Linked DNA regions of Homo sapiens: region 2 is linked to region 1. Evidence: fine-mapped QTL for protein levels in blood plasma. A gene starts in region 1. The other region holds a variant in brackets. All regions are shown on one strand. Distances are between the middles of the regions.

Region 1 (5,297 bases):
TTCTTCCCGGGCTCAGGGGCTCTGCCGGTTCACCTCCGGCAAGTCCCCTGCCCTTCGCATCTGCTGTGCCCTCTTCCTGGCAGGCTCTGCTTCCCCAGAACCTGCAAACCTCACCCCTGGAAGTCACTCGGGTTTCGGCCCCAAAGTCACCTCTCCGTGGGCCCTTGCGGGGCCACAGCTCGCACCCGCTCCTCCTTGAAGCTCGCATCCCTGACTTAGGCCGACCTCGCGGACATCCCCGCGCGGGACGCCCCACGCGAGAGCGGCCACAGGCCGGGAGCCCCCTTCGTCCTCCCGCGCGGGACAATCGGCGACAGGCGCCGGCCGCTCCCCAGCCCTGCCCTAAAGGCGCGCACCTCTCCGGCGAGTTGTGTTTCCCGCAGCCGCTGGGCTGACTCGCCGCGGGTGCCGGCGCATCCCTCCCCGGCGCCACGGCCGCCTCCATCCCCGCCCCACTGCTGCCGGGCATCCAGCCTCCTTCCCGCGGAGCGCTACGGGCCCAGAGCGCCGGGGAGGAGGCGGGGCCGCGACGCCCGGGCGCGTCCGGATTGGCTGAGCGAAGCACCCCAGCCAATCCACCCGCTTCAGAGGGCCGCCGAGCCCCCAGCGGGGAGGCGAGGCTGCGCTGGGTCAGGTGACGGGTGGGGGCGGGGCTTAGCGCGTCACAGAGCTTCCCGGGAACCGGGCGCTAGAAGCCGCGTCTCCTGGGCCGGCGGATCCCCGCACTTTCACTTCCGGGGGAGCCCCGTGACCTTTGCTGTCTGCGGCAGGGCCGCCATCGGGCCGCGGCCGGTTAGTCGGCGTAAGAGCAGGCGGGGCCCGAGCTGGACCTGAGGAGCAGAGGCGGCTGGGCAGTCCTGCGGGTGCCTCCCTCTAGCCGCATGAGCGCGGGACCGTGCACTCCGGGAGAGCCGGGGCCGCGCGGCCTTGTTCCCCGCGAACCCTCGAGGGGAAGTGCCGGGGCCGCGGCAGCAGGGCCAGGGCCCCGGGGGTCTCCCGCAGGCCACCCTGGACAGTGATGAGCAGGTCCGCTGGACCTGCGCGTCCGTTAGTCGGAGCGGCTCCATAGGGGACCTGGATGGCGTGAAGTTAAGAGTCACGCATCGAGGATGGACTTGAGGGGATCTGGAGTAGAGGATGGGAGGGCATTGAGAAAATAGGGCCAGAGATGAGGGACTCTAAGTGGGCGTGGAAACGCAGGAAAGATTAATTCAAGATCTGTTTAGGCCGTTAAATAGGAATTGGGGCATGAGGGACAGGAAGGAAGCAAGGATTAGACAAGTGACTGGGAAGATGTTAGTGCCTTTATCTGGGTAAGAGGGAAGACGGGAGGGGGAAAGATGATGGGTTTAGCTTTGGACATGTTGAGTTGTCTGTGAGACAGTCACAAGTGTAAACATCCACCAATGGTTGGTGTCCCGCCAACCATTAAGAAAAGTCAGTTGAGAAAGTGGTAGAAATGAGCAAAAATCCTCACGAAGCCATCCTACCGTCACTTTTTTTGTTGTTTTTTGTTTTTTTGGCATAATAGTGTCTACCTTTAATTGAGCCTTGAACTATGCCAGGCAGTGTTCTAGGTATTTTTCGTGTGTTCACTAATTTAATCTTGATGATTAACCCAGTCTGGTAGGTATTTATGTATGAGGAATCCAAGATACAGAAAGGCATCTTGCCCAAGTTCACACGAGTAGTGGCTGGAGCCAAAATTCGGTTTCAAGCATGCTTTGCCAAGAGGTTGAATTTTAATTGGCTTTTCATGGGCTTTCTCTATTTTGTGTCCTGTTGGGGTCCAGAATAACTTGGCTTTTCCAGCACAGCAAATCTGCAAATTTCTGGACTCATTCTCTCTCATTCTTCCCTATAAACGCAGCTCATTTCTTGCCAAATGCAGCCAATAGCAAAGGGCCCACCAACATTTAAGAAGCAAATGGATGCACAGGAGCATGAGAACAGTCAAAAGAGGAGGAAAGGAAAGGGAATTGAGAAGGAATGTCAAAAAAGTCAAGAAGACACATAATAGTGTAAAGTGTGGCTGAGAGGCAATCCGAAGTCTACTGTGCGTAACAATTAGGAGGCACTGATAAACTAGCGAGAGAAGTCTCAGTGATGGGAGAGGCATGGAAGTTAGAATGCAAAGATGGGATATGAAAAAATGAAGAATGCAGTCAACTCTTAAAACGGTTGAGAAAGGAGGAATTAAAAAGGCGTATAAGATTACAGGCAAGCTGGGCGCGGTGCTTCACCCCTGTAATCCTAGCACTTTGAAAGGCTGAGGTGGGTGGATCACCTAAGGTCAAGGGTTCGAGACCAGCCTGGCCAACATGGCAAAACTCCGTCTCTACTAAAAATACAAAAAGTAGCCGACTGTGGTGGTGCATGCTTGTAATCCCAGCTACTGGGGAGGCTGAGGCAAGAGAATCACTTGAACCTGGGAGGTGGAGGTTACACAGTGAAGCTGAAACCATGCCACTGCACTCCAGCCTGGGAGTCAGAGTGAGACTCCGTCTCAAAAAAAAAAAAAAAAAAAAAGATTAAGAGCAAATAGAGACTGAACATGTTCATAGGCTAAAGGGAGTTAGCCAACAGGACGTGCAAGGAAGAGGAGCCAAAGTCCTGGAGGAGACGATAGGGGATGAAGTTAAGAGTAAAGGTGGCTAGGGAAGTTGATAGGCATGGGGAGAATTCATTCTCTAAATCTGTTTGGAAGGCTGTAAGGATAGGAGCCCAAGGACAATGGACAAAGTGACGATTCATCCCAAGCACTCCTTGGGCCAGTTAGGCAGCAATAAGGTTTGTGTTTCCAGGTGAACATAGTGAGTGTAGTGGTGGAGTCAGACAAGATAGTGTCCAACATGGCTGGTGATACCCCGAAAGAATTGAGTACAAACATACAGAAGCCCAGGTGCTGAGGTAGCCCAGCTGAAAACAGTTTAGGGTACAACACGCAGCAGCAGCTACCACCATTCCAAGTATACTGGTCACACATGCAACAGATGACCTACCAAGATGTCTCTAATACAAACACAAGTGCCCCATAGTGGCCAGACATTTGAGGAATGGCATCTCCATGAAGATAGTGAGAGGTGACAGCGTGCTGGCAGCCCTGGCAGCCCTCGCTCGCTCTCGGCGCCTCCTCTGCCTGGGCTCCCACTTTGGTGGCACTTGAGGAGCCCTTCAGCCCACCGCTGCACTGTGGGAGCCCCTTTCTGGGCTGGCCAAGGCTGGAGCCGGCTCCCTCAGCTTGCAGCGAGGTGTGGAGGGAGAGGCGCGAGCGGGAACCAGGGCTGCGCGGGGCGCTTCTGGGCCAGCTGGAGTTCCGGGTGGGCGTGGGCTTGGCGGGCCCCGCACTCGGAGCGGCCTGCCAGCCGGCCCCGCCGGCCCCGGGCAATGAGGGGCTTAGCACCCGGGCCAGCGGCTGCGGAGGGTGTACTGGGTCCCCCAGCAGTGCCAGCCCACCTGCGCTGCGCTGGATTTCTCGCCGGGCCTTAGCTGCCTCCCCGTGGGGCAGGGCTCGGGACCTGCAGCCTGCCATGCCTGAACCTCCTCACTTCCATGGGCTCCTGCGCAGCCTGAGCCTCCCAGACGAGCGCTGCTCCCTACTCCAGGGCACCCAGTACCATCCACCGCCCAAGGGCTGCGGAGTGCAGGCGCAGGGCAAGCGGGACTGGCAGGCAGCTCCACCTGCAGCCGCAGTGGGGGATCCACTGGGTGAAGCCAGCTGGACTCCTGAGTCTGGTGGGGACTTGGAGAACCTTTGTGTCTAGCTCAGGGATTGTAAACGCACCAATCAGCGCCCTGTCAAAACAGACCACTCGGCTCTCTGTAAAAAGGACCAATCAGCAGGATGTGGGTAGGGCCAGATAAGAGAATAAAAGCAGGCTGCCCGAGCCAGCAGTGGCAACCCGCTCGGGTCCCTTCCACGCTGTCAAAGCTTTGTTCTTTCACTCTTTGCAATAAATCTTGCTGCTGCTCGCTCTTTGGGTCCACACTGCCTTTATGAGCTGTAACACTCACCACGAAGGTCTGCAGCTTCACTCCTGAAGCCAGCGAGACCACGAACCCACCGGGAGGAACGAACAACTCCAGACGCACCGCCTTAAGAGCTGTAGCACTCACCGCGAAGGTCCGCAGCTTCACTCCTGAGCCAGCCAGACCACAAACCCCACCAGAAGGAAGAAACTCCAAACACATCCATACATCAGAAGGAACAAACTCTGGACACGCCGCCTTTAAGAACTGTAACACTCACCGCGAGGGTCCGCGGCTTCATTCTTGAAGTCAGTGAGACCAAGAACCCACCAATTCCGGACACAATAGCACGTGCACCAAATAGAATTCTCACCTAAGGGAAAAAGTTTATAGAGCTATCAGAGTAGGTCTCCAATAGAGCAAGGTCTTGAGACAAATGGGTATTTTATTTAAAAAAAAAAATAGGCTGTCATGAAACAAGAACAAACAGTGAAAAGAGATACTAGACATTAATAATTGAAGTTTAAAAACTCAACATGAGTTGTCAGGTGTTGGGGAAGGAAAAGATGCATAGGCAGAGAACAGAATTTTTAGGGCAATGAACTATTTTGTATACTATAATGGTGGATACATGTAATATATTTGTCAAAATTCACAGAAGATACAACACCAAGAATGAATCCTAATGTAAACTATGGACTATGGGTGATGATGTGTCAATGAAGTTTAATCAGTTGTTAACAAAAGTACCACAGTGGATGTTGATAGTGGAGGAGGTTGCGTACATGTGCACAGGCAGGGGATATATGGTAACTGCTCAATTTTCAAGTGAACCTAAAACTCCTCTAATAAATAAGGTTTATTGTTTTTTTTAGAACCCCCCAATAGATGGGTTGAAGAGCAGAATAGGCATAGCTGAGGAGTGAATTCGTGAACTGGCCCTAGGAATTCTCTGATTATTGCTCAAAAGGATAGAGATGGAAAATATGAAATAAAATTGTCCATTGAATATGGTGATTCTCAAGCAGAGGTGATTTTTCCTTCCAGGGGTCCTTTGGTCATATCTGGAGACAATTTTGGTTACCATAACAGGAGCTGTGGTGCTTCTGGGCTGTAGTGAGTGAGGCTATTTATACTACTGAGCATCCCCCACAATAAATTATTAGCCCCAAGTGTCGCCAGTGCCAAAGGGGAGAAACCCTGATGTGGTTCCACGTTTCCATTTGGTATCATTTCTTCTGCCAAAGGACTTTGTAGTGCTAGTCTGCTGGTATGCTTCCTTCAGCTTTTGTACACATGAAAACTTGTTATTTTGCCTTCATATTTGA
Region 2 (5,365 bases), 34 kb before region 1:
CTGGGTGACGACAGAGTGAGACCCTGAATCAAAAAATAAATAAATAAAATGAGAACCTCTGTCTCATTTAAAGTAACACAGGTTGTCACTGAACACAAAGTCTGACCCCAGAACAAGGGGAACGTTGACAGAGAACTCTCCTTTCCATGGTGAGGAATTTGAGATGGTCAAGGAGACCCAGGCTTCACTGCCCACAAGAACGCATTTCAGCCCAGGTTCTCATGAACGCAGCCATCATGACGGTTACCCACGGGTTCTTCTTCATGGGCCAAACACGACTGCTGGGTTTCTCTGCGTGATCCAGGAAGAAGAAAGAAGCAACACTTTCATCTTCTAAGAAGTCAAAAACTTGTTTACAGATGCAGCTCATCGTGATCTCAGGGCCACTATAACCTCCTCCCAAATGACATGCGGCTGGTCAATCACCTGGACTTCCACTCTCAGGGAGTCAGGGCAGACCAGGTTTTAGGTGCATCTGGGACGGGGGTGATCCTAACTGCTCCTAGCCGAGGCAGATGTTGCAGGAAATCCAGATTTGCACTTGATCCTTACTCTGCCAGTTATTTTTGTTGTTTTTTGTTTGTTTGAGACAGAGTCTCACTCACTCTGTCACCCAAGCTGGAGTGCAGTGGCTCAATTATGGCTCACTGCAACCTCCAGGTTCAAGCAATTCTCCTGCCTCAGCCTCCCAAGTAGCTGGGACTACAGGTGCACACCACTATGCCTGGCTAATTTTTTGTAGTTTTTGGTAGAGATGGGGTTTCTCCATGTTGGCCAGGCTGGACTCAATCTCTTGACCTTGTGATCAGCCTGCCTCAGCCTCCAAAAGTGCTAGGATTACAGGCACGAGCCACTGTGCCCAGCCTCTGCCAGTTTTTAAAACTGATCACCTCCCCTTTCCCTCACTCAAATATTTAATTAAAACTGCCAACAAAATAGACAAATGTCTAGAATTTAATGTTGCTTCCTTCCCTGACGGCTTTTGGGGTGGCGCTAATGCCAGACACGAGAGTTTGCCACAGTCCACATCCCAGCAGCAGCAAAATGAGCCACGTCAGGGAGAGGAGGGGCCAGCGGCGAGAGCCCTGTGGACCACAGCACAGCCACCCGAGCCTGCTCTTGGCAACCCCAGCAAGGCCCTCTGACAGCCCGAGCTGTGTCATGCTCAGGGCAGGGCGAGTGGGAGTCACTGGCTCGGACCAGAATCCACGCACCGAGGGAGCTGTGCTCACACTCGGAAAGACCAGGGTGAGGGGCCATCACCTTGAAGCCGGGGTCCCCGGATGGAAAAGTTACAGGTATTGGGAAGCCGCTGGGTGCCTGGAAACTGGCTATTCAGATGGATTCTCTTCTGACCGAATTCAGCCTGAAAAAAATAAGTGAAATATTTGGTGACAGCTTCAAAGACACCACCACCAGCAACTGTTTGAAATTTAGACTTTTCCAGAAACACAACTTCAGCAGGTGCATACTTTTCAATCAGCATCTACCCAGAATAGTTACGGGGACGGACTATGGAAAGCAAAGTTAATTAGGAGAAAAACCAAATATTCAGAAACATATGAACCTTCCACATAAACCATGAGGTATACCACCTCTGCATATTTGATCCTGTGTCTCTGAAAAAGATCATGCCCCTGGCCTAGGGTCCTGCTTTCGGGGTTTCAGATCCCAATGTACTTTCTGCCACTGTTCTTTCTTCCCTCACTGCATCCTGCTGAGTTCCAGGCTACGCTGCAATCCCCACAGGTCCTGGGGTCTGGGAGCACCACACCCCTCCTCTCTGGGCACCTGCCCCACGCACCCTCCCCCTCCTGGTGCCCACCCCACGCTGCGCTCACTTCCAGCCTCTCTTCCAGGTAGTCGCGGACGTCCCTCATGTGGGCCTCATAAGCCTCGCAGTTCTGGGTCACCAGCTCCGCGGCCTGGGGGCAGACACACAACAAGTGGATGCACAATTCTTGCAAAATAAAGGAGGGCCAAAAAGCTTTCAACGGTACAGGTGGCATTTCCTGAAACTGCTCATTCTCCTGACAGTCACAGACAGACCATATTTTTTGAGTGCTGCCATTTGGAGGGTGTGGAAGTGCCCCAGAAACTGACTTCACCAGGTACCTCCTGACAGCACCAGGCACTGGAGATGCCTCAGCAAAGCAGCCCTGAAAGGGCTCCCTCGAGGAGCCAGCATCCCAGAGAGGCAGACGGACAAAAGCAGGGGAAGAGGGGAACAGACTCCTACCCACCAGTTGGCGCTGTGAAGGCACCTCGCAGGCCCAAGGTGGGGTGGTGACAGAGATGGCTGTACAAGGGCAGGGAATGGCGTCCCAGCAAGGGCTTTGCAGGGGACAGACAGACATTCTGTCTCTAGAACAGAGGGGCCTGGCGTGGCGGGTGGAGAGTGTGGAGGGGGTGAAGGCGCAGGGACAGATCGACAGGCCCTGCAGGCCCGGCCACGGGGCAGACGCAGTGAGGCTGAGGGAGGGATGCGATGGTCTGACTGGCCTGTCTGTTGGTCATTCTGTGGCCGTGTGGAAAATGGCAGCAGCAGGCCCCCAGGAGGCCATGGCAGGCATCCAGACCCTTGGTCTAGGGTTG[G/A]TGGCCATGAAAATGGACATGAGGCCGGTAGTGGGTGTATTCTGGAATCCAGACAGACAGGAAGGTGCTGCATTGGAGGCAGGGGACGATGACAAGGAGGGACTGAGGGCATCCCCCGGACTTCAGAGGTGAGAACCTGGATAGCAAGAGGTGCCCAGGGTGGGAAGAGGGTTGGAGGAGAGCAGTCGGGACAGGTTTTGAACTCAGAGGAATGGATCTCTCAGGACATGGGCCAGGGCCTAGCTGAGATGTCAAGTTTAAAGGCAGGAGCACAAGCTAGCATCACAGTGACAGGACAGACGGACCCACAAGGGCTCAGGTGCAGGGCTGCCAGCACGCAACCAAGGCAGAAAGGAATGGGTGAGGGAAAGCACGCTGGGGAGGGCGTGTGCAGGATGGAGTCTAGGCTGGGTGGCGGAGGGGGGCTGTCTAGAGCGCTGGTGGCATTGGGGTCTGGGCTGGGCGAAGCTGAAGAACCAGTGGGGGTGTGGTGCTGTGGCTGGGACCCAGCTGTGGCACTTGTGCCATTACAGGTGCAGATGCAGCTGCAGGAGCACGGAGAAGGTCAGGGGCTGGGGGGCTTCCAGCACTGTGAGCTGAAGCTCTACCTAGGAAGCTGTTACCGTGATTCCCATCTGGCAGCCAGGACTCAGGGAGTTCCAGCGACCTGACCCAAGGCACACGGTGAGTGAAGCTTCAAGCCAGGATTTGAACCCTGGGTATTTCAAAGCCTGTGGACGGCACCACTACTTCATCACTCAGGTCAATACGAGCAGGTACCGGACTCCACTTAAAACACACTCTTCCGGCTGGGCGTGGTGGCTCATGCCTGTAATCCCAGCACTTTGGGAGGCCAAGGCGGGTGGATCACCTGAGGTTAGGAGTTCGAGACCAGCTGGACAACATGGTGAAACCCTGTCTCTACTAAAAATACAAAAATTAGCCAGGCATGGTGGCGCATGCCTGTGGTTCCAACTACTTGGAGACTGAAGTGGGAGAATCTCTTGAACCCGGGAGATGGAGGCTGCAGTGAGCCAAGGTCGTGCCACTGCACTCCAGCCTGGGTGACAGAGTGAGACTCCATCTCAAACAAACACACACTCTTCCTTCTAGTAAATGTAGCCACAGTTATCACTGTTAATAATATAATTTTGAATATTCTAAGTAACAGGGAATCCATTCATACTCTTCCCAAGGCCCGGCCTCCTGGGCGCTAAGCCCTTTCTCTGTACTGGGGATACTGAGGCCGACATGGCCAAGCCCCTGCTCTCGGGGAAGCAGAAGGTGGGGCATACATCTGAACACACTACAGAGAAACATCAGATAGGGGAAATAAAGCAGTGTCAGGGATAGAGGGTGACAGCAGGGGACATGGGGGAACCAATGTAGCTGTGGTTCATGGAGGGTTGCTTGAAGGTGGTGGCCTTTGACCAGAGGCCGCACAGTGAGGGAGCAGCCTGCAGACGCCGAGGTGTAACCAGTACCTCTGCCTTCGCACGGCAAAACCTGAGCCTGGTTACTGTCGCAGAAGCAGGACAGGCCCCAGTGGAGGGCTGGTGGCAGGTGCTGGATTGGCCACCCCACAGACCAATCGGGGACAGAACGTCGATGGTGCGGGGGCTGCCGACGCCTTTGGGAATGGTGAACCTGCAGCTTGACACTTCACCTCTGCTGTAACAGTATCACTGTTTCTCATGTCAGAAGAGACACAGACAAGGAGTTTTTCCCTTTTAAATGCTAAACAAGTGCCACTAATCCACAGATCTGAAAAAGTACAGCTCTCCAGGTTGATAAATCAGATTCCAGGCTTTTTCTTGTCAGTCCGCTTATGAGATCACGAATATGATCTCCCTAAAGCCCCAGATTCCTACTAGAGCCGCTGGGGACACTGATGACAAAGCAATCAACTCATCTCCTCAAGCTCACCAGGGCTCACCTTCCCAAGGCCAGCAATCATTGGGGTGTTCTCTGTCCTGTAAGAAACAAGGGATTAAGCAAGAATAAACAAATGTCTCAGGAAGGAATCCTGTCTCCATGAAAGTCATTGTGTTAAAATAAAATCAAACTCACGCTACATCTTTCCTAAGCACGCGCCATGTGGCTATCTCAATGGCAGCTGCAGGCCCCAGAAACCTCCCCTGCCAAGTTTTCACTTGCCCTGGCCCAGTGAAGGTCAACGAGGCCCACTGTGGGTGATGTGTTGGGTGTTCACTGTGACAGTTCTATCTGGACCCTTTTCCTACCCAAAGCAAGCACTCTGCCTCCTGTAGGCCCCAAGGCACAGCTCTCTTTAGTCCTCACTGCCAAATCAGTATAGTATGGAACAGGGGAGAACCCTTTGTTCTCAACATTTCAGGCATCAGCAAACAAGAGGGGTGTGTGTGTGTGTGTATGTGTGCAAGCGCGTGTGGGTGTGCACACACACAGGAGATGGGCAAGAGACCCCTAAAGACAATGGCTTGCATACTCTGACCTAACAAACCGAAAAACAGAACTCATTACCCTATTTTCAGGAAAAAAAAATTAACTTAATAATTAATTTCTTAATTTTTTTTTAGATGGGGTCTCGTTCTGTTGCCCAGGCTGGAGTGCAGTGGATCTCGACTCACTGCATCCTCCACCTGCCGGGTTCAAGTGATTCTCCTGCCTCAGCTTCCTGAGTATCTGGGATTACAGGCATGTGCCGCCATGCCCAGCTAATTTTTGTAAAGACAGGGTTTCACCATGTTGGTCAGGCTGGTCTCGAACTCCTGACCTCGTGATCCAGCCA

Which allele goes with the higher level. Alleles are on the strand shown, and positions count from the first base shown. The strength of an association depends on the size of the effect and on how common the allele is.
As copies of G replace A in region 2, the plasma level of the protein whose gene starts at base 499 in region 1 goes down (moderate association).

The links. PIP is the chance, under the fine-mapping model, that this variant and not a neighbour inherited with it causes the effect. The UK Biobank Pharma Proteomics Project read protein levels with antibody pairs (Olink). The fine-mapping took linkage between variants from a reference panel, not from the people measured, so its PIPs are less certain.
Region 2: its variant is fine-mapped to the plasma level of the SCLY protein (UK Biobank, PIP 0.98).

Annotation. Positions count from the first base shown.
Region 1 is chr2:238,056,203-238,061,499 of GRCh38, reverse strand. SCLY (selenocysteine lyase) reads right to left here and starts at 499. Exons shown (of 12, transcript NM_016510.7): 1 at 357-499. The coding sequence starts at 445. UBE2F-SCLY (UBE2F-SCLY readthrough (NMD candidate)) reads right to left here. Exons shown (of 19, transcript NR_037904.1): 8 at 4,250-4,342. RefSeq lists silencers at 290-739, 880-1,089, a cis regulatory region at 4,133 and an enhancer at 4,049-4,218.
Region 2 is chr2:238,090,421-238,095,785 of GRCh38, reverse strand. It overlaps SCLY (selenocysteine lyase), which reads right to left. Exons shown (of 12, transcript NM_016510.7): 8 at 4,532-4,568; 9 at 1,842-1,925; 10 at 1,264-1,366. It overlaps UBE2F-SCLY (UBE2F-SCLY readthrough (NMD candidate)), which reads right to left. Exons shown (of 19, transcript NR_037904.1): 15 at 4,532-4,568; 16 at 1,842-1,925; 17 at 1,264-1,366. Among named protein-coding and RNA genes, the nearest start is that of ESPNL, 7.2 kb to the left of the region's middle. RefSeq lists enhancers at 275-942, 943-1,612, 3,298-3,467. The variant G/A (reference allele first, on the strand shown) is at 2,596.